4 linked regions of the Homo sapiens genome follow. The protein of the gene in region 3 interacts with the protein of the main gene of each other region in a biochemical or structural test. Each region holds a gene or a part of one and is shown on either strand. Other genes may lie near its edges.

The links.
Region 1: the proteins of PLAT (region 3) and SERPINA5 form a complex in vitro, tested with the Homo sapiens proteins (one study listed by BioGRID).
Region 2: the proteins of PLAT (region 3) and CLEC3B form a complex in vitro, tested with the Homo sapiens proteins (one study listed by BioGRID).
Region 4: the proteins of PLAT (region 3) and SERPINI1 form a complex in vitro, tested with the Homo sapiens proteins (one study listed by BioGRID).

The regions. Positions count from the first base shown.
Region 1 is NC_000014.9:94,584,426-94,591,425, forward strand, and holds part of SERPINA5 (plasma serine protease inhibitor preproprotein), read left to right. Parts: intron 1-2,920; 5' UTR 2,921-2,937; coding exon 2,938-3,556; intron 3,557-5,615; coding exon 5,616-5,886; intron 5,887-6,323; coding exon 6,324-6,471; intron 6,472-7,000. UniProt on the Homo sapiens protein: Heparin-dependent serine protease inhibitor acting in body fluids and secretions. Inactivates serine proteases by binding irreversibly to their serine activation site. Involved in the regulation of intravascular and extravascular proteolytic activities.
Region 2 is NC_000003.12:45,021,291-45,029,318, reverse strand, and holds the start of CLEC3B (tetranectin), read right to left. Parts: upstream 3,017-8,028; 5' UTR 2,957-3,016; coding exon 2,848-2,956; intron 1-2,847. UniProt on the Homo sapiens protein: Tetranectin binds to plasminogen and to isolated kringle 4. May be involved in the packaging of molecules destined for exocytosis. Plays a role in retinal function.
Region 3 is NC_000008.11:42,190,565-42,197,610, forward strand, and holds part of PLAT (tissue-type plasminogen activator isoform 1 preproprotein), read right to left. Parts: intron 2,648-7,046; 5' UTR 2,622-2,647; coding exon 2,550-2,621; intron 851-2,549; coding exon 808-850; intron 1-807. UniProt on the Homo sapiens protein: Converts the abundant, but inactive, zymogen plasminogen to plasmin by hydrolyzing a single Arg-Val bond in plasminogen.
Region 4 is NC_000003.12:167,822,714-167,826,108, reverse strand, and holds the end of SERPINI1 (neuroserpin precursor), read right to left. Parts: intron 3,124-3,395; coding exon 3,037-3,123; intron 1,637-3,036; coding exon 1,547-1,636; intron 863-1,546; coding exon 786-862; 3' UTR 540-785; downstream 1-539. UniProt on the Homo sapiens protein: Serine protease inhibitor that inhibits plasminogen activators and plasmin but not thrombin. May be involved in the formation or reorganization of synaptic connections as well as for synaptic plasticity in the adult nervous system.

The sequences.
Region 1 (7,000 bases), on a different chromosome or scaffold from region 3:
GGGTCTCAAACATGTAGCCCAGGAGAGCCTAAGTGAACCTGGGGCCCTCTCCAAACAGATCCTGGGGGAGACTCAGTGCACACCCGGAGAAGCAGCTCCTCCCCATCGGATCTCTAGTGCTTGGCAGGGGGCGGGGTCTTGAGGGGGTGTCCACAACACATGGCAGACTGCAGATGAAGAAACTGAGGCCCAGAGGGGGTGAGGCTTGCCCAGGGTGACCTAGTAGCTGAATAGATGGGAGAATGGAGGCCAGGGCCTCACTGAGACTCTCTGGTCAGCTGCCCCTGGGCTGTATCCAATAAGGAAACTCCCCTGCTTCTGAAGCTGTTCTCGAAATTATCAGCTCAGTGTGACCCTGTGGGGGGTTGAGCCACATTGTTTCTTTAGAAGCATCTCCATACATGGCTGGTTCCAACCCTTGGCAGGAGGGACCATATTGTGCTGTAAAATAGACTCATTTAGAGAAGCCGGAGATTAAAGCACCCACCTATGTCCTTCAAAGCTCTCCAGGCAAGTGCCATGGTGGGAACAGGTAGGGAGTGTCAGTGGGGGGAAGCCCAGACTCTGCTCACTCATTATCTGCAGATTAGGGCTATTGTTGGTGGCTACTAAGTCAGGGATTTCAAAATCAGGAAGATGCAGCCAGGAAAAGAGGAGGCAGGACTCTGCAGAGGAGGCAGGACTCTGCAGAGTCAGAGTGATAACCGAGTCTGAGTCCAAGCTTTGCCAGTGTTAGCAAGCGACTCCATCTCTCTGAACCTCGGATTACCCATCTGTAAAATAGAGCTAGCAGCAAGATGTACCTTTTTGGGTGGTGCAGGGCTGAAGGAGTTGGCACAGTGCCTGAAAGAGGGTGCGGGCAATGCGCCCAACTGCTGTGGCTGCTGGGTTTGGTGCCAGGTTCGATTCTGCAGGCAGAAACTTCTACATGAGGCTCCTTCTCGGAAGGAGCTCAGGACACAATTTGGAGGCTGGGCTGGCAAGGGTGACCTGCTGGAGCTATTCAACTTCACTTAAAGACAGGCCTGCAGTCCAAGCCTGCCCAATTCCTGAGACCATTCTCTCTCCACTGCTGAGCCCCACGGCCACTCTGCAAGGGATTTCCCACCCACCTGTTTGGGGCCCTTTGGAGTTTGGTTTTAATTGGGTCACGGGATGCTGTGACAGGCTGCCCCTGCCTGGTGGGGATCTGGGGTCACTGATGACATTGTGCCCATGGAGAGAGCCCAGCAGAAAGGGATTCCCTCCAAGGCGACACACAGGGCAAAGCTCACATCAGAAGCCAGGCAGGCCCTCTGCACCTGGTAATTAGCCAGCCTGGGTGCTGTCAGGCTCACACGTGTGTGTGTGTGTGTGTGTGTGTGTGTGTGTGTGTGTGTAAAGCATGTACCCTATGGTACAGTTGAGAATATGGAGGCCTCAGATGGGGCTTTTGCCAGAAACTGCCATGCCTACTGCTCACACTTCCATAGCACGTGCCCCCAAGCACCCCATGGTGTAGGTGCTGTTATTATCACTATCTTACAGTTATGGAGCAGTGGCTCAAGGTGTAACTGACTTGCCCAAAATCACACTACAAGGACACAGCAGGGCTGAGATTTGAACCCAGGCAGTGGCTTCAGAGCCTGAGCTGTTTCCTACTGCAGAGGGAGGAGGCAAGACTTCTACCCGTAGCCAGATGGGGAGGCATGGGCACAGGAACGGCTCTTGGGTGAAGTGGAGGGAGGAAGAGGAGGACTGAAGGCCAAGGCCACGTCAGGAGTGATGGGAGACCCCACAAAGGCCTCCCTGAGAAGAGCTAGAGACAAAGATGAGTGCCTCCTCATCTGGAAGATGAAAAGATGTCTTTGCCTGCATGGGCTGCTGTCACAAAGTCCCAGGGGCTAGGGGGCTTCAACAACAGAAATTTCTTTCTTTACAACTCTGGAAGCTGGAAGTCTGAGATTAAGGCACCAGCAGGATTTGTTCCTTCCAAGGCCCCTCTCCTTGGCTCACAGGTGGCTGCCTTCTCCCTGTCTTCACCTGGTCTTCCCTCTGTGCATGTCTCTATCCTGATCTCCTCTTTTTAATTTTTGTGTAAGGACGTAGTCATATTGGGTTGGGGCCCACTCTAGTGACCTCATTCTAACTCAGTCCCCTCTTTAAAAGCCCTATCTCCAGATATAGTCACATTCTGGGGTATTGAAGGTAAGGACTTCAGCATATGCATTTTGGGGGCACAATTCAGCCAGAACAGGAGGACGGTGGGGATGTCCACATGAAGAGGTTCAGGCAGAATTCCTTTAGGAGGGGAAGATGTCTCTCTGTGGGACAAGGGTGGCATGGAGCAGCCCCTGGGGGAAGGAGAAGGGGACAGTTTGCATACTGGTATTCTGCCTACCCCAGGGTGGACACTCACTCAGCGTTTGCTGAATGAACAGGGCAAGGCCAGCAGTGCTGATGGTCCCAGGCATGTAGCTGGTCTGAGTTCATAGAAGGACCACAGCGCCCTGCCATGTGCCAAACCAGGACACCAGAGTGAAGGCCAGAAGCTCACATGGAAGCAGCTTAGTTCCCTGGTAACCTCGAGATGCTGATGAGACAGAGCAGAGCAGAGGGAACCCTCTCCCTCCATATCCCATCCTCCAAAATGTGTCCCTTGATGTGGATGGGTAGACAGGATTCCTGCCCTGGCAGCCAGACCCCTGCCTTGGGTCTGCACCTCCTCTCCCTCCTTCCTCTCCCCGTCATCCCTAAATCTTGTCCTCGAGCCACTGCCACCCTGTGTAAACCCTCATGCCCAGTCTTGCGGGTGCCATCCCTTCTCTTTGAAGCTGAATGGACCAAACATACCCATTGAGTGTTGGGTGGGGACATCTCTGGAAAGTCAGCACCTGGACCAGCTCCACCCCTCTCTGAGGACACCTTCTTTCCCTTTCAGAACAAAGAACAGCCACCATGCAGCTCTTCCTCCTCTTGTGCCTGGTGCTTCTCAGCCCTCAGGGGGCCTCCCTTCACCGCCACCACCCCCGGGAGATGAAGAAGAGAGTCGAGGACCTCCATGTAGGTGCCACGGTGGCCCCCAGCAGCAGAAGGGACTTTACCTTTGACCTCTACAGGGCCTTGGCTTCCGCTGCCCCCAGCCAGAGCATCTTCTTCTCCCCTGTGAGCATCTCCATGAGCCTGGCCATGCTCTCCCTGGGGGCTGGGTCCAGCACAAAGATGCAGATCCTGGAGGGCCTGGGCCTCAACCTCCAGAAAAGCTCAGAGAAGGAGCTGCACAGAGGCTTTCAGCAGCTCCTTCAGGAACTCAACCAGCCCAGAGATGGCTTCCAGCTGAGCCTCGGCAATGCCCTTTTCACCGACCTGGTGGTAGACCTGCAGGACACCTTCGTAAGTGCCATGAAGACGCTGTACCTGGCAGACACTTTCCCTACCAACTTTAGGGACTCTGCAGGGGCCATGAAGCAGATCAATGATTATGTGGCAAAGCAAACGAAGGGCAAGATTGTGGACTTGCTTAAGAACCTCGATAGCAATGCGGTCGTGATCATGGTGAATTACATCTTCTTTAAAGGTAAGGCCCTTGGGCCCAAACCTGCACTTTCTTTGGCTTTTCTGCTGCTTTTATCTAAAGAATACCCAATTCCCTCACATACATAAAAGACGGGGAGTACGTTAAGTTCTTTTGGGTGCCTGTTGAGAAAAATTAAGTAAACAAGCAGCCAGAGAAGGTAAGATGAATGCCTTCTTGCTGTGGATGGGATTAGTGAGGCTGAGATGCTGTTTCCTCCACGGAGGAAGAGCTGGTTGCTGTCTTCGGGCCCCTGGGGACATCTGAAGCCCCAGCTTTCTACAGGCTCTGAAGTATGAACCCATTGTGGCCACCATGGCAAAGACACCAACACCTTAGCCACTCAGGGCAGGACACAGACCCCAGAAGGGCTTAAAGGGCATTTCCCAGTCCCCCGTATCCCTCAGATCTTGGCCCCTCTGCCCTCATAGAGGCCAAGACTCCCTCAGACAAATGCTTGTTCCTCTGAAATGCCTCCTCCTGACTCCTCAGCAAGAGCTGACCTCTGCTTATCTCCCCGACACTCCTTGTAAGCATTCCTGCTCGCCTCTGCAGCTCCTGCCAGTTGCTGACCCTGGGGAAAGCAAGAGTGGATAGAGAGGAGAAGAGAGGAGAGGAGAGGGTGGGAAGGGTTGCGAAGGAAGGTAAATTGTTAACACCTCCCCTTCCTATGGTCACAGATCATGAGTATCTTTGGCCATTTGGGTGGCTATAACAAAATACCATAAACTGGGTGGCTTAGCAACAACAAACATATATTTCTCATAGTTCTGGAGGCTGAGAAGTCCAGGATCAAGGCACTGGCAGATGCAGTGCCCATTCCTTGGTTCATAGAGAGTGCCTTCTTAGTATATCCTTGCTGGAAGGAGGAAGGCAGCTCTCTGTGGTCTCTTTTGTAAGGACACCGATCCTGTTCATGACAGCTCCACCCCCATGACCTAATCAACTCCCAAAGGCCCCCTGTCCTAATACCACCACCTTGGGGGTTAGGTTTCAACATATGAACAATGTGGGGACACAAACATTGAGACCACAGCAGTGAGTGTCGAACTTGGACTCTGAGATTTCCTATCCCCTGGTGCAGGGCAGTCCCCATTACACCAGATTGCTGAGGGCAGCTGGGAAATAAGCTAAGGACGGTATTGACTGGGGTCTTCCTTCGATAACGATTAAGAAGTTGGAAACAGGCCAGGCATGGTGGCTCACGCCTATAATCCCAACATTTTAGGAGGCCGAGATGGGCAGATCACCTGAGGTCAGGAGTTCGAGATCAGCCTGGCCAACATAGTGAAACCCCGTCTCTACTAAAAAATACAGAAATTAGCCAGGCATGGTGGTGGGCGCCTGTAATTCCAGCTACTTGGGAGGCTGAGGCAGGAGAATCACTTGAACCTGGGAGGTGGGGGCTGTAGTGAGCCAAAATTGCGCCACTGCACTCCAGCATGGGTCACAGAGCGAGACTCCATCTCAAAAAGAAGAAAAAAAGAAAAAAAAGAAAAAAAGAAATAAAATAAAATAAAAAGAAGTTGGAAACAATCACTTGTAGCGTTTTGTTCAGAAGTTCCCATAGGAAGGTCAGAGAAGGGTCATTGAAGACTTCCCAATGGGAAAAACCATTCATTTCCAGGATCCATACTAACTTCTTTCTAAAATTTAAATCAAAATATTGGAATGAAAGTGCAAACAGAGAAGTTCACCCAGATATCAGGTAGCATTCACAGCCAGCCACATTTTTCACCCTCTTCACTTGGAGATTTGGTCTTGAGTAAAACGTTAGAGAATCAGAGAACATCAGGGGTCCAGGGCCTCTGAAGATGTGAAAACCAACCTCCTTGTTTTGCAAATGTGGAAGGAAAAGTCCCACGAAAAGTCCAAGAATGTGCCCAATGTTATAAAGAGACTTGCCTTCATATTCAAGAGGTTCAACAGTCACTGCTCTGGGGCTGCCATAAAGATGGTCTCCGCTGGCTATCTTTACTGTCTTCACTCCTTTTATTTGCAGCTGAGAATTTCTAATTCTGACACAAAATTCTTTTTCATTTTTCCCTTTTTTCATCTTTAGCTAAGTGGGAGACAAGCTTCAACCACAAAGGCACCCAAGAGCAAGACTTCTACGTGACCTCGGAGACTGTGGTGCGGGTACCCATGATGAGCCGCGAGGATCAGTATCACTACCTCCTGGACCGGAACCTCTCCTGCAGGGTGGTGGGGGTCCCCTACCAAGGCAATGCCACGGCTTTGTTCATTCTCCCCAGTGAGGGAAAGATGCAGCAGGTGGAGAATGGACTGAGTGAGAAAACGCTGAGGAAGTGGCTTAAGATGTTCAAAAAGAGGTACTTTCAGACTACCCCAGGGCCAGCCTAAACCCACACAGCCCCAGGGAGACACACACGCCCTACCAGGGCCACACAGCACTGGTGGGAAGGACTCACCCAGCCAAGGAGCTGCCTCCAGGCCCAGAGGCATCCTGTGACATCCAAGTCCTGGGGGCCTAGCCCAGTTGGAGGGACAAGAGCTGGAAACTGGGTTCCTTAGGGTGGTGCCAGAGTGGGCAGAGACCTCTGGGCAGCCCACGTCCAAGTCCAGAGCAAGGGGAGGCTCATCCTAGAAAAGAGGCCAGAGGAGCCATAACCACCATTGTTCCTTGGGTTAAGGAGTCCTTTTTTAAAACCATCAAAACTAAGAATCCAGTGCATTATGAATCCAAGGGGTGAGGCTCAGTGTGCCAATGCCCCAGAACAGTCTAAGAAAGCTCCTTTTCCCTTTCCAGGCAGCTCGAGCTTTACCTTCCCAAATTCTCCATTGAGGGCTCCTATCAGCTGGAGAAAGTCCTCCCCAGTCTGGGGATCAGTAACGTCTTCACCTCCCATGCTGATCTGTCCGGCATCAGCAACCACTCAAATATCCAGGTGTCTGAGGTGGGTTCAGAAGCTCCTATGCATCTGCTTCCCAAGGTCTATTCTGTTCTATTCTTTCTATTCTACTCTACCCCATTTCATTCCATTCCATTCCACTCAACTCCACTCCACTCCACTCCACTCCAGTTCACTCTATTCAATTCCACTCCACTCCACTCCAGTTCACTTTATTCAATTCCACTCCACTCCACTCCAGTTCACTCTATTCAGTTCCACTCCACTCCACTCCACTCCAGTTCACTCTATTCCATTCCACTCCATTCCACTCCTCCACTCCTCTCATCCACTCCACTCTACTCCTCCACTCCACATCTCCACTCCACTCCTCCACTCCACTCCTCCACTCCACTCATCCACTCCACTCCTCCACTCCACTCCTCCACTCCACTCCTCCACTCCACTCCACTCATCCACTCCACTCTTCCATTCCACTCCATTCCACTCCTCCACTCCACTCTTCCACTCCACTCCATTCCACTCCTCCACTCCACTCCACTCTATTCTATTCTATTCCATTCCATTCTACTCT
Region 2 (8,028 bases), on a different chromosome or scaffold from region 3:
CTAAGCCTTGCCCTGGCTAGAGTGGGTCAGACCAGAAAAAGAGATGCCTTTCTATAATTTGTCAGTTTAGAGGAGGTACCTTTTGTAATTTGCACCAAGGTGCCCATATGTGCAAAGTTTCCTCCAGGGACTGTCCAAGGTACAGGAAGCTACTCTCATTAGCTCCACCTGAGGAAGCTGTGGGAGTAGGTGTCTCTACGGCCCTGGGCAGAGTCAGGAGGCCTTTGTGCTGGCCCACTCTCTGAGCCTCAGGTTCCTTCTGCGTGATGTTAGAATGGATGCCCTCCAGGTTCCCCCAGTTCCCTGTTCTAAAGGCCTGTGACTCCTATGAGGCCATCCTTCCCTCCGGAGCTTCCCTGCCAGGTGTGACCATGTGGCCCCAAGAACAGATGAGCTCCCAGAAGTACTCTAGGCTCCCCGCTTCTCACCCACCCTGAGGGCCAGGACAAGGACTTAGCATATGCTGGCATTCCCTTCCTTTGCCAGTCCTGCCACTTGCTCTCCCCCTCTTGGCCCTGGCACCAACTGGTCTCCTCTGGCATGACCGTCCCTTCTTTGGACTTTCTCCCGTACTTTTGGGCACCAGCCCTGCAACTAGATTGCCCCTGAGATTCTCATTCCTGGCTGCTCCTAGGAATCCCTGAAGACCTGTGGAAAAGGCAGATGCTAAACTCACCAAGATCCCTAAACCAGCATTTCCAGGGGTGGGGCCCAAGCACCTGAATTCTTAACTTTTATTTTATTTATTGATTTATTTTTGAGACGGAGTCTCACTTACTCTGTCACCCAGGCTGGAGTGCAGTGGTGCAATCTCGGCCCATTGCAACCTCCACCTCCCAGGTTCAAGCAATTCTCCTGCCTCAGCCTCCTGAGTAGCTGGGACTACACGTGTACACCATCACACTCAGCTAATTTTTGTATTTTTAGTAGAGACAGGGTTTCACCATGTTGGCCAGACTTGTCTTGAACTCCTGGCCTCAAGCGATCCTCCCACCTTGGCCTCCTAAAGTGCTGAGATTACAGGCTTGAGCCACCACGCCTGGCCAAGGCACCTGGATTCTAATGTATCTCCCAGATGATGTTGATGCCTGAGTGAGAACCACCATGGTTCATGTCTTAAGAGCAGAGACGGTGTTTCTCTGCTGTGTGTCCAGCATATAGACTGGTGCCTACGTGGAGAAAGAGCTCTATAAGTGCCTGCCATGTTGGTGGGCGGGAGACTGCCATGGGTTTCAGCGAGAGGCAGGGCCTGGGTGGCTGTTCTGTTGGCCTGTAGCCCTGGAACTCCAGGGGCCCCTTCTATGGAGACCACATAGGGCCAGGGTTCAAGTGTGACAGCTGGAGAGAACCAAGGCATCACGTGCTCTGACCCTTTTTTTTTTAACATGAGTTTAAAAAGATTTACATAATTATATTAATACTGAATCTTTGGTAAACTTGAGAAGCTGGCGATGGTTTTCCACATTCAAAAATTCTATGATTTGCCTTTGGAGCTGCATCTTTTACAAAGGCTCTCCCTTGGTGGCGATTTTGGCTAATGCTCATAGACGTAACTATGCACGGTATTGTCTTCTCTTTTTAAATGAACATTTTGTGGAAGGTAATATACACACATAATTTTTTAAAATCCAAACAGTTCAAAAAGCTGGTTTCTTTCCCAGTTGAGACTGCGCCCAGCCCCTGGTTTTTCTTCCCAGAGGTAATCACTGTTACTCACTCTTGTGGATCCTTCCAGAAAGAACTTATGCACATACAAGTAAAAATGTATTATTATATAAATCCCTTTTTCAAAGCAAATGTCAGCATCATACTCATTCTCTTTTGAATGTTTCTTTTTTCACTTTGTAAACTGAATCTTGAAGATGATTTTTTTATCAGCAGCCAGATTTGCCCCATTCTTTGTCACAGTGTTGTGAGGCCCCATGGCCCCGATGTCCCTTTATGCACTGCACTAGTTCCTGGCCAGTGGGCAACTGTCCATTTATGAAGAGCCCCGGGAGGGCCTAAGGGAGGCCCCCACAGCCCCTTCTTTCCTTTTCTGTGCCCTTGGTCCTAGCTGCTTGTTTCTCTGCCTCAGTCCCCACCCTCATCCCCTTGGACTCTCTTCTAGCCTCTGCTCCCTGGGGGGGTGACAGCCCCGTCCATTGCCATGACATTCCACTGATGTTGTCTCAACACAGCCTGGGGTGACCTCACTGCAGGCGGGGCTGCAAGGGCAAGTCTTGCTGTAGCCAAAGCAACCGAGGGACACCCCAATCCCCAGAGGCTACAAAGCAGAGCAAAGCTGCTTCTGGTGGACTAGTCTGAGTTACATTTATTTCCTGAAGGCTGTGATATGCTACAGAAATGAGAATTCATTTCTTCTTCTTTTTCTTTTCCCTGTGCATCAAGCAACAAGTGAGGTGCCTTTATATATTTTGTATCATAAAATCTTCATGAGAAGTCTTTGAACAAATACCACTGTCCCCATTTTACAGTTGAGAAAACAGGTTGGAAGACTCCAAAGCCCAGCCTGTGCAGCTCTCCCTGGTAAGGGCTGAGCGCTGCCAGACTCCCAGGCCAAAGGTTTGGTTTCTTTAAAATATTGGGGATGAGGGGAGGAGAGAAGAGCAAAGATCAGTTTGGATGATCTGGAAGGTTCTTCCCAACTCTAAGGGTCAGGGATTCTTATGATTCTGACAACCAACTCTGCTATGAGAGAACTCCCCCAAGCCCCAAAGCCCACTTTACTCAAGTTCCCTAGATGACTCAAAAGGAGGAAAATGAAGGAAAGGAGCATGAGGACACACTAAGGAGAGGGGGACCTGCTCCCTGGAAGATGGCACAGGGCTCTGTCCCCCTCCTTACCTTTCTTGGCATTTACAATCTTCTTGGGCTTCTGGGTTGGTGGCTCGGTGGTGACCTGGGTCAGGAGGGAGAAGAGGCAGAGGAGGAGGTAGGCCCCCCAGAGCTCCATGCTGCTGCGCGGGCGGGGGCTGCTGCTGCCTGCAGCGGGTCTGGGTCCGAACGCAGTGACAGCCACGGCCCAGGCTGCACGTCTTAAGGCAGCAGCCAAAGGACCTCTGTCCAGGAAACCCTCCCCAACTTGGCTGCAGGCGTGCCAAAAAAATAAAACAAACACACAAGCCTGCAGAAGGATGAAGTCCTGAGGGCCACAGAGCCTCTCTGCCAGGGAACACCCACGCAGCATCCTGGCCCTGCCTTCTAGAAAGAAGCCCTTATTTCCTAGGATTCTGAGAAACACACGGTGGTTGTCATCACATCTGCGGAGCAGCTACCTTGGGTAGGGGCTGAGGCTGGCTGTTCACTAACATTAACTCACAGAAGCTTCACACCCAAACCACGAGGGAAGCACTGTCCTTTCCCCATTTTACCATTGAGGAAATTGAGGCTCGGTGAGGTTAGGGAATTTGCCCAGGCTACCCAGCTGTCACGGGGTAGCAATGCCCCCTTATAGGGTGATCTGGGGCTGGCTGTCTGATTGGTTTAGAATATTTGTTATGATTATTTTGTGGCTCTGTCTCCATGTACTTGATGCATTTTTTGGTTAAAAAATCCAAGGGATTCCTTCCCTTCTTGTCTTCCCTTTCTCCTGAGTCCTGTCCTAAAGCCACAAAGTGGGGCATAGCAAAGGTGGCGGAGGGAGAAGCCATCGTGCCCCAGAGGTACCAGAGAGGATGTGGGGAGAATGTGCCCTCAAGGGGTGGACTGGTGTGGGGTGTGGGAGCCCAGCAGGGTGGAGGGAGCATCCTGGGGAAAGCAAAGGCCCTGCCTGGAGTGCTGGAGTCCAAGTGAGGCAAGGAGGGGATCCATGTGGGAGAGAGGCTGGTGGCAGAGACGGGAGATTGGTTACACACAGGGATACTGATCAAATAAATCTACTGAAGACAGTGGGAGTTAGGTTTCCTATTGTCAGAGAAGGAAGTTATGTATATGGAGAGAAAACTGGAATGAATCCTGTTGTGTGGGATTAAAATCGGAATGATCAGTGTACCCTTGTGGCCTTGAATACATAAAGATAAGTCCATATATATAGATGGAAATGTGTGTGTGTCTAGTCCCCACAGTCACTGGGGGGCCTGGAGCAGCCAGCCCCGCATAGCCTGGAGCACTCCTAGCACCTGAATACTGGCTTCTGAATATGACTTTCCACTAAAGGAACCAGAGCACCTTGCAGAAACGGCTGATTCTAGCACTGGGAAGTAGGAGTGGGGTGCAGAAAATGAGCCCGGAACTTGTTGTTTTGCCAGAAAACAAGGAAGTGCTTAATGAATAATGGGAACACGTCAGTAGGACACAGAGCCAGCTTGAAGGAGCCTTCAGTGGTCAGAATCAGGGACAATTTGAGCACCAACATAGTGACAGTAACAGATGGGAAACCACCAGTGCACACAGATATAAGTAAGTAAGGGAACGCATTGAAAGTCTGATGTTCTTCAATGGGATGTTTACATAGCCTCAAAGTATCTGCCCACAAAACACTTATCCATTCCAGAGAGAAAAAGAGCAACTTCATGGTGAAGAAGGCTGGCAGACATCACCTCATCTGTGACCAAAGTAAACATCAACAGGGCCAATAAAAAGCTTGCAGCACCTGGGGGGCTGCAGTGAGAATGTGGCATCACTCCATAGGACTCCGGCCAGAGAGACATCAGACAATCCCAAATGGAGGAGCATTCTGCAAAATGACTGCCAGTAATTTTCAAAGCTCCTGGCTGAGGAAGTGTTTCAGGCTGAAGGAGACTGAAGACACAGAACTAAATGCAATATGTGATTCTGGACTGGACCCTCCATTCTCAAGGATGCAGTTGGGACAACCAGAGAAATCTGATGGGGTCTGAGGAGCACACGGCAGTGATGTGTTGTCACATGCTGCATCATGACAGTTCAGTCAACAACAGGCCACATATGTGATATGCTTCCATAAGATTATAATGGGGCAGAAAAATTCCTAACACCTAGTGATGTCACAAAGGGTTGTAAAGTCATAGTGCAACTCATTATTCCCAAGTTTGTGGTGATGCTGGTGTAAACAAATTTACTGCCAGTCATATCGAAGTAGAGCATATAAGGTCATGTTAGCACATAATACTTGATTTTGTTAGTCCGTTTTCACACTACTCTAAAGAACTGCCCAAGACTGGGTAATTTAGAAAGGAAAGAGGTTTAATTGATTTACAGTTCCACACGGCTGGGGAGGCCTCAGGAAATTTACAATTGTGGCAGAAGGTGAAGGGGAAACAAACACCTTCTTCGCAAGGAGGCAGGAGGTACAATGAATGCAGGAGGAACTGCCAAACACTTATAAAACCATAAGATCTCATGAGAACTCACTATCACAAGGACAGCATGGGGGAAACCACCCCCATCGTTCAATGACCTCCACCTGGTCTCTCCCTTGACACATGGGCATTATGAGGATTACAATTCAAGATAAGAATTTGGGTGAGAACATAGTCAAACCATATCATTCTGCCCCACATGATTGTGCTTTGAAATGTGAGAGCATGAGATTTGGGAGGGGCCGGGGTGGAATGATATGGCTTGGCTGTGTCCCCACCCAAAATCTCACCTTGAATTGTAATCCTCATAATCCCCATGTGTCATGGGAAAGACCAGGTGGAGGTCATTGAACCATGGGGGCAAGTTTCTCCCATGCTGTTCTCGTGATAGTGAGTCTCATGAGATCTGATGGTTTTATAAGCATCTGGCATTTCCCCTGCTTGTACTCACTCTGTCCTGCTGCCATGTGAAGAAGGTGTCTGCTTCTCCTTTGCCTTCCACCATGATTATTAGTTTCCTGAGGCCTCCCCAGCCATGCAGAACTGTGAGTCAATTAAACCTCTTTCCTTTCTAAATTACCCATTCTTGGGCAGTTCTTTATAGCAGTGCGAGAATGAACTAATACGATGATAATAAATGACCGTGTCACTGGTTTATGTATTTACTGTGCTATACTTTTTATCATTATTTTAGAGTGTACTCTTTCTACTTTTTTTTTAAAAAAGTTAACTGTGAAACAGCCTAAGGTGGGTCCATCAGGAGGTTTTCCAGAAGAAGGCACTGTTATCATAGGATATGATAGCTCCATGTGTGTGACTGTCCCTGAAGACCTCCCACTGAGACAAGAGGTGGAGGTGGAAGACAGTGACACTGATAATCCTGACCCTGTGTAGGCATGGGCTAATGTGCGTTTGTGTCTTAGTTTTTAACAAAAAGTTTAAAAAGTAAAAAAGTAATAATAACTAGAAAAAGCCTATAGAATAAGGATATAGAGAAAATAATTTTGTACAACTGTTCAATGTGTTTGTGTTTTAAGCTAAATGTTATAAAAGTAAAAAAGTTAAATGAGTTCAAAAGTTTACAAAGTAAAAAAAGTTATGGTAAGCTCAGGTTAATTTATTATTAAAAAAGAAAACCATTTTTTAAAAAAATGTAATGCAGCTTATGTGTGCAGTGTTTTATAGAGTCCAGAGTAGTGTACAGTAATGTCCACGTTCACTCACCACTCACTGACTCACTCAGAGCAACTTCCAGTCCTGCAAGCTCCATTCATGGTAAGTGCCCTATACCAGTGTATCATTTTCTTTATCTTTTATATCAGGAGTCCCCAACCTCCAGGCTATGGACCAGTACTGGTCCACAGTACTGGTCCGTGGCCTGTTAGCAACTAGGCCCATCAGCAGGAGGTGAGTGGTGGGTAGGCGAGCATTACCACCTGAGCTCCGCCTCCTGTCAGGTCAGCAGCAGCATTACATTCTCATGGGAGCACAAGCCCTATTGTGAACTGTGCATGAGAAGGTCTAGGTTGCACACTCCTTATGAGAATCTAACGCCCAATGATCTGAGGTGGAACAGTTTCATCCTGAAACCATCACCCCAACCCCGCATCCGTGGGAAAATTGTCTTCCATGAAACCAGTCCCTGGTGCCAAAAAGGTTGGGGACTGCTGTTTTATACCATATTTTTACTCCACTTTTTCTATGTTGAGATACACAAATACTTACCATTATGTTACAACTGCCTACAGTATTCAGTGCAGTCACGTGCTGTACAGGTTTGTAGCCTAGGAGCAACATACCATACCTGAGAGCCTAGGTGTGTAGTAGGCTATGCCACCTAGGTTTGTGTAAGTACACTCTGTCATGGTAGCACAACGATGAACTCGCCTGACAATGCATTTCTCAGAACGTATTCCCATTGTTAAGCAACGCATGACGGTATCCCTGTTATGGTCCTACTTGATGGTGTGCTGTGATTATGTAGGAGAGTGTCTTTGTCTGTAGGAAACACACATACTGAAGTATTAGACAGCGATATGGTACTGTGTTGACAACTTACATAGTTCAGGGGGAGAATGTTCTTTGTACTGTCGTTGCAAATTTTCTGAGTTTGAGATTCTTCCAAAAGAAAATACAATACTATGTACTTCAGGCTTTTCCCTGCCTTCTAGGGACCCCACCTTCCCCTGTCTGACTTAGGGAGGGATCTCTTATGTAGTAGGCCAGGGAAGCAGGAGGCCAGCTGGGCTGGCCCAGTGCACAGTAGTCCTGCCAAGGGTGGGGGCCCTGAGCACGGAGCAGAGCATTTGCACGGCCCCTCAACGACACTGGGCTCCACCTCTCACATTCTCAGAGTGGGAAGGGTTTTATATTCACAGCTGGGCCCTCGGGAGACAATTTGGAGCCTGATGATTACATAACCTAAAAGGGGCCTTGTTCCTGGAACTCTGGGTGGGTAGCAGATGGTAAAAGAAAATTAATATTTTTGTTAACTGCTTTGCTTTCTTGGTTTTCTCACCTTGGCCCAACTCTATCTTGGCCCTTCAGTGGTAGGAAAATGAACGAAGTATGCTTTCTAAACATGAGGCAACCAGAGGCCCCATGTTTTCCAGGGCTGGCTGATGGTTGAAGCTATGGGGACTGTGGTGGCGTCTCACAGGGCACCGAATGCAGCCAGGGCAGGGCAGAAGGAAGGTGGCCCTCAGGCTGAGGAAGGGACACAGAGGGTGTGGCCAGCTGAGGGGAG
Region 3 (7,046 bases):
CAGGATAACCTGGTAGGAAGCAGGATGCCATCCAACAACGAAGGCATTAAGAGTCCAGGTGTGACTCGCTCTGGGGAGTGAGTCACCCTTTTTAACACCTTCACAAAGGGTATTGCAGAGTCTTCCAGACTCGAAGGAACTGGGTCGTGAAGGAGGGAAATCGAGGGCCTAAGTTGGTAGTTTTGGACCTGAAGCTGGGCCTCGCATTCCTCAGCCTTCTAGAGTCAACTCTAGATGTGGACTTAGAGACCCCACCATGTCGAGGGGTTGCCTGGGTGGGACATCCCAGTTGGGACATCCCGGTTGGATCAACAGAGGGAAATGGATACACAGGGATGTTGTTACCAAAGCTGCCGGTGCACTGTGGTGGGATCACAGCCTAGGATGAGACCCAGAGCATGGGCCTGGCCTCGGCTGTGACTGCCCTGGCCGTGCTGCTGGCGGCTGTGTGACCCTGGGCAAGCCACTTGCTCTCTCCTGGGCTCTGCCTTTTGATCTGTATAACCAGGACCTTGGGCCAGTGGCCGCCCCCCCCAGCCCCCGCTAGGTTGTGATCCCTGACAGCCTGGCTCCTTGGGGGGGAACACCTGTTTCTGCTCCCCTCAGAATCAGAACCCGCCCAGTGGCCGCAGCTGATGGGAGAATGGTGCCGACACAGGCATCTCTGTAGAATCATGCTGCAATGGCACTGTCACACCGTAGGCAGGTGGTGGGTGGAAGAAGGCAGGTGGTGGGTGGGTGATGCACCCTGCACCCCGCCCTGCCTCCCTCCCTGATGACCCCATGCACCCCTCAGCTTCACCCGACCTTGGTAAGATCTGGCTCCTCTTCTGAATCGGGCATGGATTTCCTGCGAAGAAACCAGAGGTGGAGGAAGGATCAGCACATGCCAGGTGTACTAAGAGTAAAGGCGGCCAACCCAGAAGCCCATGTGAACCTGCCGGCCAGATACCTCTGCTCAGAGACCCCCTCGGGTAACTGGCCCAAGTGAAAGTCCATCTCCTGCCTTCTAGTCCAATTCTTCCTCTCCTTCCTGACTGGCTCTGTCCAGAAGAGCTTTCTGCTTGGTGGAAATGTTTTCTGTCTGTGCTGTCCACGACAGAAGCCACACAGGGCCACCGAGTGCTTTGAATGTGGCCAGTGGGACTGAGAAACAATTTTTAACTTTAATTATTTTAAATTTAAACAGTTGCACAAGGTAAGTGGCCACCATATTGGGCAATGGAGTTGCAGCTGGCTGTCTACTCCACGCAGTCACCTGGCTCTCCCCGCTGTAGGGTCCTGTGGGAGAGGTGTGGTTAGTTTGGACTTCCGTGAGGCCCTTTATTGCTAGGCATTTTCAGAGAGTGTGTGTAGCGCTTCCATCTCAGCTAGAGAGTAGGCACCATGAGGGCAGTTTGCCTCTGCTGTGGCTCATGGCACTTGCATTGCCTTTTTCTTTTTTTTTTTTTTTTTTTGAGACAGGATCTCAGTTTGTCACCCAGGCTGGAGTGCATTGGCGTAATCATATCTCACTGAAGTCCCAACCTCCTGAACTTAAGCGATCCTCCCGCCTCAGCCTCCTGAGTAGCTGGGACCACAGGTGCATACTAGTACACCCGGCTAATTTTTAAATTTTTTGTAGAGACAGCATCTCACTATATTGCCCAGACTGGTCTCCAACTCCTGGGCTCAAGCGATCCTCCCACCTCGGCCTCCCAAAGTGCTGAGATTACAGGTGTGAGTCACTGTGCCCTGTCCTGCATTGTCTTTTATAAATACAGTCCACTTTGTATATCTGCAGGTTCCATATCTGTGGATTCAACCAAAACAGAAAAATAAAAAATAATAATATAAGCTGGGCTTGTGGCTCACACCTGTAACCCCAGAGTTTTGGGAGGCCAAGGCTTAAGCCTAGGAGTTTGGTGCTGCAGTGAGCTATGATTGTGCCATTGCACTCCAGCCTGGGTGACAGAGTGAGACCCTGTTTCCAAAAAATATATAAATAAATAATACAACAATAAAAATAACACAAATTAAAAAATACCTTATAACAACCATTTACATAGCATTAACATTGTACTAGGTATTATAAGTAATTTAGAGATGATTTAAAGTATACAGGAGGGTGTGCATAGGATATGCAAACTCTACACCATTCTATATGAGGAACTTGAGTATCCCTGGATTTTGGTATCCTTGGGGGTCCTGGAACAAATACCCCATAGATATGAGGGACAACTGTACTTTATGGATTAATTTGAATACATTCTTTAAAAACAGCTGCAAAAAAAGGCAGTCACAGGCAGGGAGTGGCATGTTAATTCCGCTTACTCAGGTCAAAATAAGTGCCTAGGGCCCAGCTACACACTGGGCCCCCAAATACAGAGTTTGCTGTACAGAAGGGAGTGTGTGCTGTGTGCTCCACAGCAATGCCAGCCCCTCGTCCCTGTGCCTCTCTGCTCCCTGACAGCATTCCAACCTCCGTGGCCCAGATGGACACAGACCCCTGGAGCCTCCGGAAGCATCACAGCCTTGAGGGGCGGGACACAGGGATCCTGCACACCAACCTGGCTGGGCGAAACGAAGACTGCTCCACACAGCAGCAGCACACAGCAGAGCCCTCTCTTCATTGCATCCATGATTGCTTCACAGCGTCCCTTAAATTCTGGAAGGAGAGAAAAAACAGCTTGATCACGGGGTGCGAGAGGTCCATGATGGCAACAGAGGAGGATAAGCCGCAATGTTGTCCTGTCTGGCTTCCTCCAGTGCCAGCCCCGCGGCAGAAACGCCAGACATGCATCTAGAAGAGGATTCTAGAAACTACATATTTTTTATTGTTGCAAAATATATATAACACAAAATTTACCACCTTAACGATGTTCAGTGCACAGTTCAGTGGCATTAAGCACGTCATATTGCTGTGCGGCCGGCCGTCACCACCGCCCATCTCCAGAACTTCTCCATCACCCCTAACTGAAACTCTGTAGCCATTAAAGAATAACTCCCCATTCCCCTTTTCCCCAGCAGCCACGCTGCTACTTTCTGTCTGTATGAACCTGACTGCTCTACATACATCCTAGAAGTGGAATGAGACAGTGTTTCTTCTTTTGCGACTGGTTTGTTTCACTTTGCAAATGTCTTCAAGGTGCATCCATGCTGTAGCATGTCCTTTTTTTTTTTTTCTTTTAAGATGGAGTCTCGCTCTGTCGCCCAGGCTGGAGTGCAGTGGTGTGATCTCGGCTCACTACAAGCTCCGCCTCCCGGGTTCATGCCATTCTCATGTCTCAGCCTCCTGAGTAGCTGGGACTACAGGCGCCTGCCACCACGCCCGGCTAATTTTTGTATTTTTAGTAGAGACGGGGTTTCACCGTGTTAGCCAGGATGGTCTCGATCTCCTGACCTCGTGATCCGCTCGCCTTGGCCTCCCAAAGTGGTGGGATTACAGGCGTGAGCCACCGCGCCCCCGCTGCCTTTTTTTCTTTTTCCTTTCTTCTTTCTTCTTTCTTTTTTTTTTTTTTTTTTTTGAGACTAGGTCTCGCTCTGTCATCCAGACTGGAGTGCAGTGGCATGAACATGGTTCACTGCAGCCTTGACCCACCAGGCTCAAGAGATCCTCCTGCCTCAGCTTCCCAGAGCTGGGACTTCAGGCATGTGCCACTGTGCCTGGCTGAGAGAGAGAGAGAGAGAGAGAGAGAGTGTGTGTGTGTGTGTGTGTGTGTGTGTGTGTGTGTGTGTGTAGAGACAAGGTTTCTCTATGTTGTCCAGGCTAGTCTCGAACTCCTGGGCACAAATGATCCTCCTTCCTCAGCCTCCCAAAGTGCTGGGATCAGGCGTGAGCCACCGCGCCCAGCATTTTTCCTTCCTTTTTAAAGCTGAATAATACTCCACTGTGGGATAGAACACATTTTGTTTATCCATTCGTCTGTCAATGCTGGGAGATAATTTTGCCCAGAGATTTCTGTGGGCTGAAGGGCTAGACCATTTCTGAGACATCTTGGCAGCCCAGAGACCACAGCGCTCTGGCTTGGTTTCCTGGAAGGGAATTCCTGCCCTGGGCTTGACTAGATGGAGCCGCAGTCATGTCCTCTTGGACTTCTGCAGCGGAAGCCATTGGGATTTTATTGCCAGCACATCATAGAGCCAGCCTGCCTTAGACTGCTCAGGTTCCTCCACGCAGGATGGAGCCTACTCCCCTGCCTGAGGTTCTCCCCACAAAGCAGAGGCCCCCCAACCCAACCTCCACGCCCACCCCCCCCACCGCTCTGCCAGAACATCTGTCTCCTTTTTCATAGACTGCAGCAGATCCGGCAATGTGCATATTTGCAGGAAGGAGGGGAGGCAAATGATGTTTGGTCGGAAGACTCAGATCTTCCTGGACCCCAGAGCCCCAGTTTCCATCTGCCTCTCCTCTGTGATCCTGCCCTCGGCAGCTAAAAGTAGGTTAGTCGGCCGGGTGTTATTTTGTGGTCTGGCGGCCTGTTCCCTCCTTCATCCACAAAAATTAAAGCATGGCATTTCTTTCCCTGACTCATTTCCCTTCGGTCACAACAACTTCAGGTCCCACCCTCCCCCTCCCCCTCCCCCGAGCGTCCTAGGGGCCTGGAGGCACAGGGGCTTCCAGGCCTTGCCTCCCTGCCTGGGTCCGGCTCTGGATCTTTGATTGTTACTTCGAAACGAACTCCCCCGTGGGAGGTGCTGATCACCCTCCTTGCCTCGCTACATTTCATGCCTGACAGATTCTCCCCGGGCTCCTGTGTCAGGCAGAGGAGCTTAGGGAGAGGGCGAGGGAAACCTGCAGGAGGCTCCGGGTACAGCAATTCCAATGAGAAAACACAGCTCAGAGGGAGGCTCGCCAGCGTGGCATCCTCTCAGCCTCCCTGCACCTGTCCCATCAGGAGGGAACAGAAGTGCCATCTCCAGCCTTTGAGCCCGCAGTGCCCAAGGTCTCCCTGGAGTGCGCTCTTTGGGTGTCCCTTTCTCCCCGGGAGGAAGCAGCTGTGCTACTCCCTGGCTCCAGGCAGTTTCAGAAGAAAGGGAGTCAGGAGCCAAGGCCACCCAGAACAGGAGTGCGGGGTGGAATCTTCTCATCACAGAGACTTACTCCAGATCTTCTCTTTCTCAGCTTTCCTCAAATTTCCTGTTTCTCAAAACTGCCCAAAATTCCTCTTAAATTCCCCTTTTAAATTTTATCCCATTACTTAATCTTGTAAAAATAGCTCATGTGAAACTCCCTCCCCATTTCTCCTTGATGTTCATGTATCTCTAGGTTGCCCCACTCCTTACTCTTAAGCAAGACCCAAGGATGGTGAGAGCTCCCACCTCACAGGAATTGTGAATGAAACAGCAAACGAGTGAGTACAAGGAACTTGACCTTCTTCATCACGCTGTCCACACCACCCAGCCCTCTCGATAGGCTCCTGCACCCCAGCCTGGGATACAGTTTGGGTGTTTTTTCCAGATGCCCACCAAGTTACTTCTTTATTTCAAGAACTCAAAGTCCTTCCAAAAGGAATGCAATCCCAGATGCCGGGAAACTGCAATGTGAAGAGTGCAGTATGGACATGTTGGCATTGCCTGGGAACATCCCCCTTTCTGGATAACTAGGGGTGGGGGGACCAGATGGAGGAGAAGCACGACCTAGGGCTGGTCCACACATACCACCCGCTGCATCATGTTCAACCCTTTTGCAACTGAACGGTCTGAATAAGAGATAAGAGAGCAGGAGCATATTTTTGTCTTTGCTCCTGAGAGAGTTGGAGACTTGTCTCTTCTCTTCCTTGGCTTCCCTGGACCTTCCTGCGCCTTGAGCTGATTCAATGCAAGTGAATCTCACCCCAGCAGGGCGATAGCTCTGTCCGCATCACACAGAGGCGATTCGAGCAGCTGAAAAGGCCAAGTGGGGTAAGAGATGACAAAGAAATGAGTCATCCGGCCAGCAGAAAAACAGTGCAGTCTGAAAACAAGAAAGAGCGAAGAGAGGGAGGAAAAATGAGTCCTTGTTTCGCCTTCGCTGAAGAGGTGGGCGTCGAGGTCTGGGGCCAGTGACGGGATGCAGAGCAGAGTGAAAGCCAGAACAATGGACTCAGACTCGGGACCGCAGGGCGTGGCTGGGATGGACTTTGGGCCTCACCAAAGGGAGGTCCATGAGTGCTCTGGCGAGACCCGGGTGAGAGATGACATTGGCGGAAGGGATGGAAGAGGCTCATTTTTATAAATAGACTTCTAATTTTGTTCTGTGTTATCTCCCTTTTGCTATATTTAGTAGCTTCTCAGGATCATCAAAGAACTGAAAAAAAAAAAGGCAAATGAGAAGAAGGAAGGAAGGGGGTAGGAAGGGAGGCACAGAAGGATAGAAAAGGAAAAAAAAGAAAGGATGAAAGAAAGGAAGGCCCCAAGGTTGGCTGACTTTTGCTGGGCTGGAATCCAGAATCACTGTATGAGAGGAGAGGTGGAATGCTGGTCCCCAAGACCCCAAGGCCTAGCCCTGTCAGGCCACCCTAGCACACAAAGTTGATTTTTGCAGATTTGCAAAAGGTACCCTCTCTGTTGGATGAAGTTCAGCAGTCTCAGGGCATGGCAGGTTGACAAAGAATCTGTGCAAATTAGAAAAAACAGAGTCCGTGGGTTGGCTGATAGAGTGCAGCCCGGATCTGAAGGATGTGTGTGTAGGCACCTGTGTGTAGGACACAGCCAGCATATCTGTGCTCGGCCAGCCCTGTCTGCTTCCAACCTGCATGTGCATCCTGCAGAGCAGCTCTGACCTTCCTGCCTGGAAGCCGTGTTTGGTCTGTTGGCTGTAGCAACCAGAGTGACTCTGTTCCTGGGCCCTGCCAAACAACCTGTGAATGATGACTGTTCTTGGGGAAAACGGGAACAATAGTCTGGTAACCAGGAAGTGGGGTACCGTGCTGTAAGCTCACTTTCCTGGGAGATGTACTGTTTCCCAGAGCCAAGGATGCATGCCGTTTTGGCTGAGAAATTGATGATCATGCCAACCAGAAAGGTGGTGTTCATTTCTTTGGTGGCCACATGGGGAAATGATGGTCGATGGGCACCAGTGAGTA
Region 4 (3,395 bases), on a different chromosome or scaffold from region 3:
TTTCCAGTATGCGTGCTAGCATGGTTTTTCTAATTAACTCTCCCGTGACGTGCCAAAGTGCATATTTTTATTTTTAGTTTGCTCGTGTGGTTTATTTTGGGGCTTTTGGGAAATTGTAGCTTGGATTTTACTTACAGCAACAAAACACAGTGATACACCAGACTTGTAAACTCCTTTAGGCATATGAAGCCAAATGAATTTTCAATGATTTGGAAAAATGAGCTATAGGTATCTGAGATTTGCATAGCTCTGTTGTTTTTTTCTAACAGGTCTTGTCATGAAGCAATACGAAAGATGTCCAGTTTGTATTCTTTTGCCTACGCTATACACTTATTTCCAAGAAATTACAGTGAGAATTTTTGTGGAGTACCTGTCTTCACCTCACTTGTTATTGCTTGTTATGCATAAGTTTATAATGCTATTTTACTATGATGTTTTGATCCTGCATAAGAGATTTAAGAGGTAGAGAAACATTGTTTCCAAAGTTCACCTAGAGATATCTTTATACTACAACTTCTAAAATAAAAAAATAGATCTAGTCACATGTTCAATAGGTACTTTTATTTTAAACAACAGCACACAAACACAATGACATAACAGGACCATTAGCTTAATACTGATAACATTCCTTGACAAGTTACTTATAATTTACATATATTGTTTTTATCTGGAACTATTTTAAATATTATCTTAAGATATACTGTAAAACACAAATCCTAAATATATACCAGTTGCAAACATAATGTGCTTAGTTACTGTTTTCCTTGTTATTCAAATAAAGTAACTTAAAGTTCTTCGAAATCATGTCCACTTGTGTTCATTGTTTCAGGATGCATGACTCGTCCCATGAATAGAATTGTACCTGTATTGGTTCAGAAGTAAACAAAAGAGGGGGTGAACAAAATAATAAAATATTTATCTTCCTTCTTGCTTACAATTAATGAAAATATGTTATTTTCTCCTTCCTTCCTTCCTTCCTTCCTTCCTCCTGTCCTTCCTTCCTTCCTCTCTCTCTTCCTTCCTTTTCCCTTTCCCTTTCCTTTCCTTTCTTCTTTCCTTCTAGAGAAAGGCTCTTGCTCTGATGCCCAGGCTGGAGTGCAGTGGCTCTATCAGAGCTTACTGTAACTGTGAACTCCTGAGCTCAAGCATTCCTTCCACCCCCAACACCTCTAGTAGCTAGGATAACAGGCATGTGCCACCATGCCTGGCTAATTTTTTAAAAATTTTATTTATGTAGAAATGGGGTCTCACTATGTTACCCAGGCTGGTCTTGAATTCCTGGCCTCAAGTGATCCTCCCTGCCTGGAACTCCTGAAGTGCTGAGATTAAAGTCTGAGCCACCTCACCAGCCTTATTTTCATTAAAAAAAATCATTTCAACATTATAAACTATCTGATAATTCAGTTGGTCAATCTCTGGAAAGAGAATAAATAAATAAAATTGTGAAAAGAAATTATATGATGAGTACTGAGGAAAAAAATCTCCATTTAAAAAAGAGGTTCTTTGTGACCTATTAAATAAAATTTTGTTTTCATAATAAACTTACCAGTTCTCCTGTTTCTGATAAGAAAGAAAAATGGATGGTCGACAATAACTTGAGGATACAGCACAGCCATCCTACTAATTGCAATCATTCCTACAGTGCAGATAAAAAGTAATTATATGTCTGTGGATGTGCAGAGACTAATGAGTAATTCCTCAAAACCATCTATGCCTATCCACCTAATGCAAAGACAACAATTTACAGGAAACAAGATTTTAAAGACTTAACTGGAGAAAAATTATAAAGGTGTTAACATTTCTACTTGATCTTTTTAAAAAGCAAAACGAAACAAAACAAACACACACCACAAACAAAACAAACAAACAATTTCTTCCTTCTACTCCATTAAAAATAATAGGACAATTTATTCTGCTTGTTATGAAATGTTTATTCTCAGCCTCACATAAATATGTGTGTCTTTACTAAAATGACTTTTGAGTAAAAGGAAGGGGGAGAATAAAGAAAAAAATCCCCAAACAAAAACTGAAGAGAGTTTCTCTATATTTTCAAATCATTATTTCTTTTGTCTGAAGCGGGTATTTTTACATAGGAAGTCACCAGGTTTCTAGTAAGTGGTCAAGATGGCAGTGATTAAAGGGAAAATATAACAGTGAGAGATACAACGAGGTATCCTATGACTGGGCTACTAAATTCCCCTGAGATCCTCATTATAAGATGATATATACTTGCTGCAGTATAGTTAATTGTCAAAAGAAAGTCCAGATTACATGTAAGATTTCAAGCTGTCTTGATGCCTGAGGCTACTATGCTCTTATTTACTTCGGAAAATACTATCCTATCATGAAAGTGATAGAGGTGGGGTATGTTGGGATAGTTAGTGGGTACGAAAATACAGTTAAATAGAATGAAGATCTAGTATTTGATAGCACATCAAAGTGATTATAAGTCAACAATTTGTTGTACATTTAAAAATAACTGGAAAAGTATGATTGAAATGTTTGTAATAAAAAGAAATGATAAATGCTTCAGGTGATGAATACCCCATTTACCCTGATGTCATTATTATGCATTACATACCTGTATCAAAAATATCCCATATTCTCCATAAATATATACATTTGCCATGTAACCATGAAAATAAAAAATAAGAACTTTTTGCTGACAAAATTAAGAATCAACTTCAGCAAATAATTTGGTAGGAAGAAAAATGTTTAAATGGGTAGCAGGAAAATATTTAAAATATTTAAACAGGCAGCACAGCAGAAAAAATCTATTTTCGCAGAACTGCCAATGTCCTCCTGTCTCTCATTAGAGAGAAAATGAAGATGAGAGTTATCTGTAAAGGGGCACTGGAGTGAGTTCACACTTCACATTCTATTTAGAAAATTCCGGCTGGTTCAGCATTTGCTTGACTTCTAAGTTAGAGCAGAGTGACTTTTTTGGCTTCATTTTGAAAATGACCCCACTCCCCACTCAAGATTGCTCTAAAAATACAAATCTAGAAGAGGGGAGAAGATTCTAGCAAACAGTACCTGAGACAGCAGCAGCTTCTGAGCCTTCTTCATTAACCTCTAGGAAGGACTTGTGAATTGCTTTGGAAAGAAAAATCTCCTTATTATCTGCAAAAAGAGAATCAGAAATTTTTTTTTTTCATTCAGAGATAGGAAAATATTTTGCCCTTTTGTTAAATGGATTTTAGAGATCTAAGAGACTGGGATACTGAAGAAAACCTAGGAGATAATGTTAAAAGATTTCATTAATGAGATAACCATTGAAGATGTGGTTTTTAATTTGCCCTCATTTTATATTCTTTTGCTAATTTTCTTTTCTGTTTTTATTGGTGGTTTTCCCATATGTATGTCTTATATTTTCAGAAAAAGTGGAAACTTTT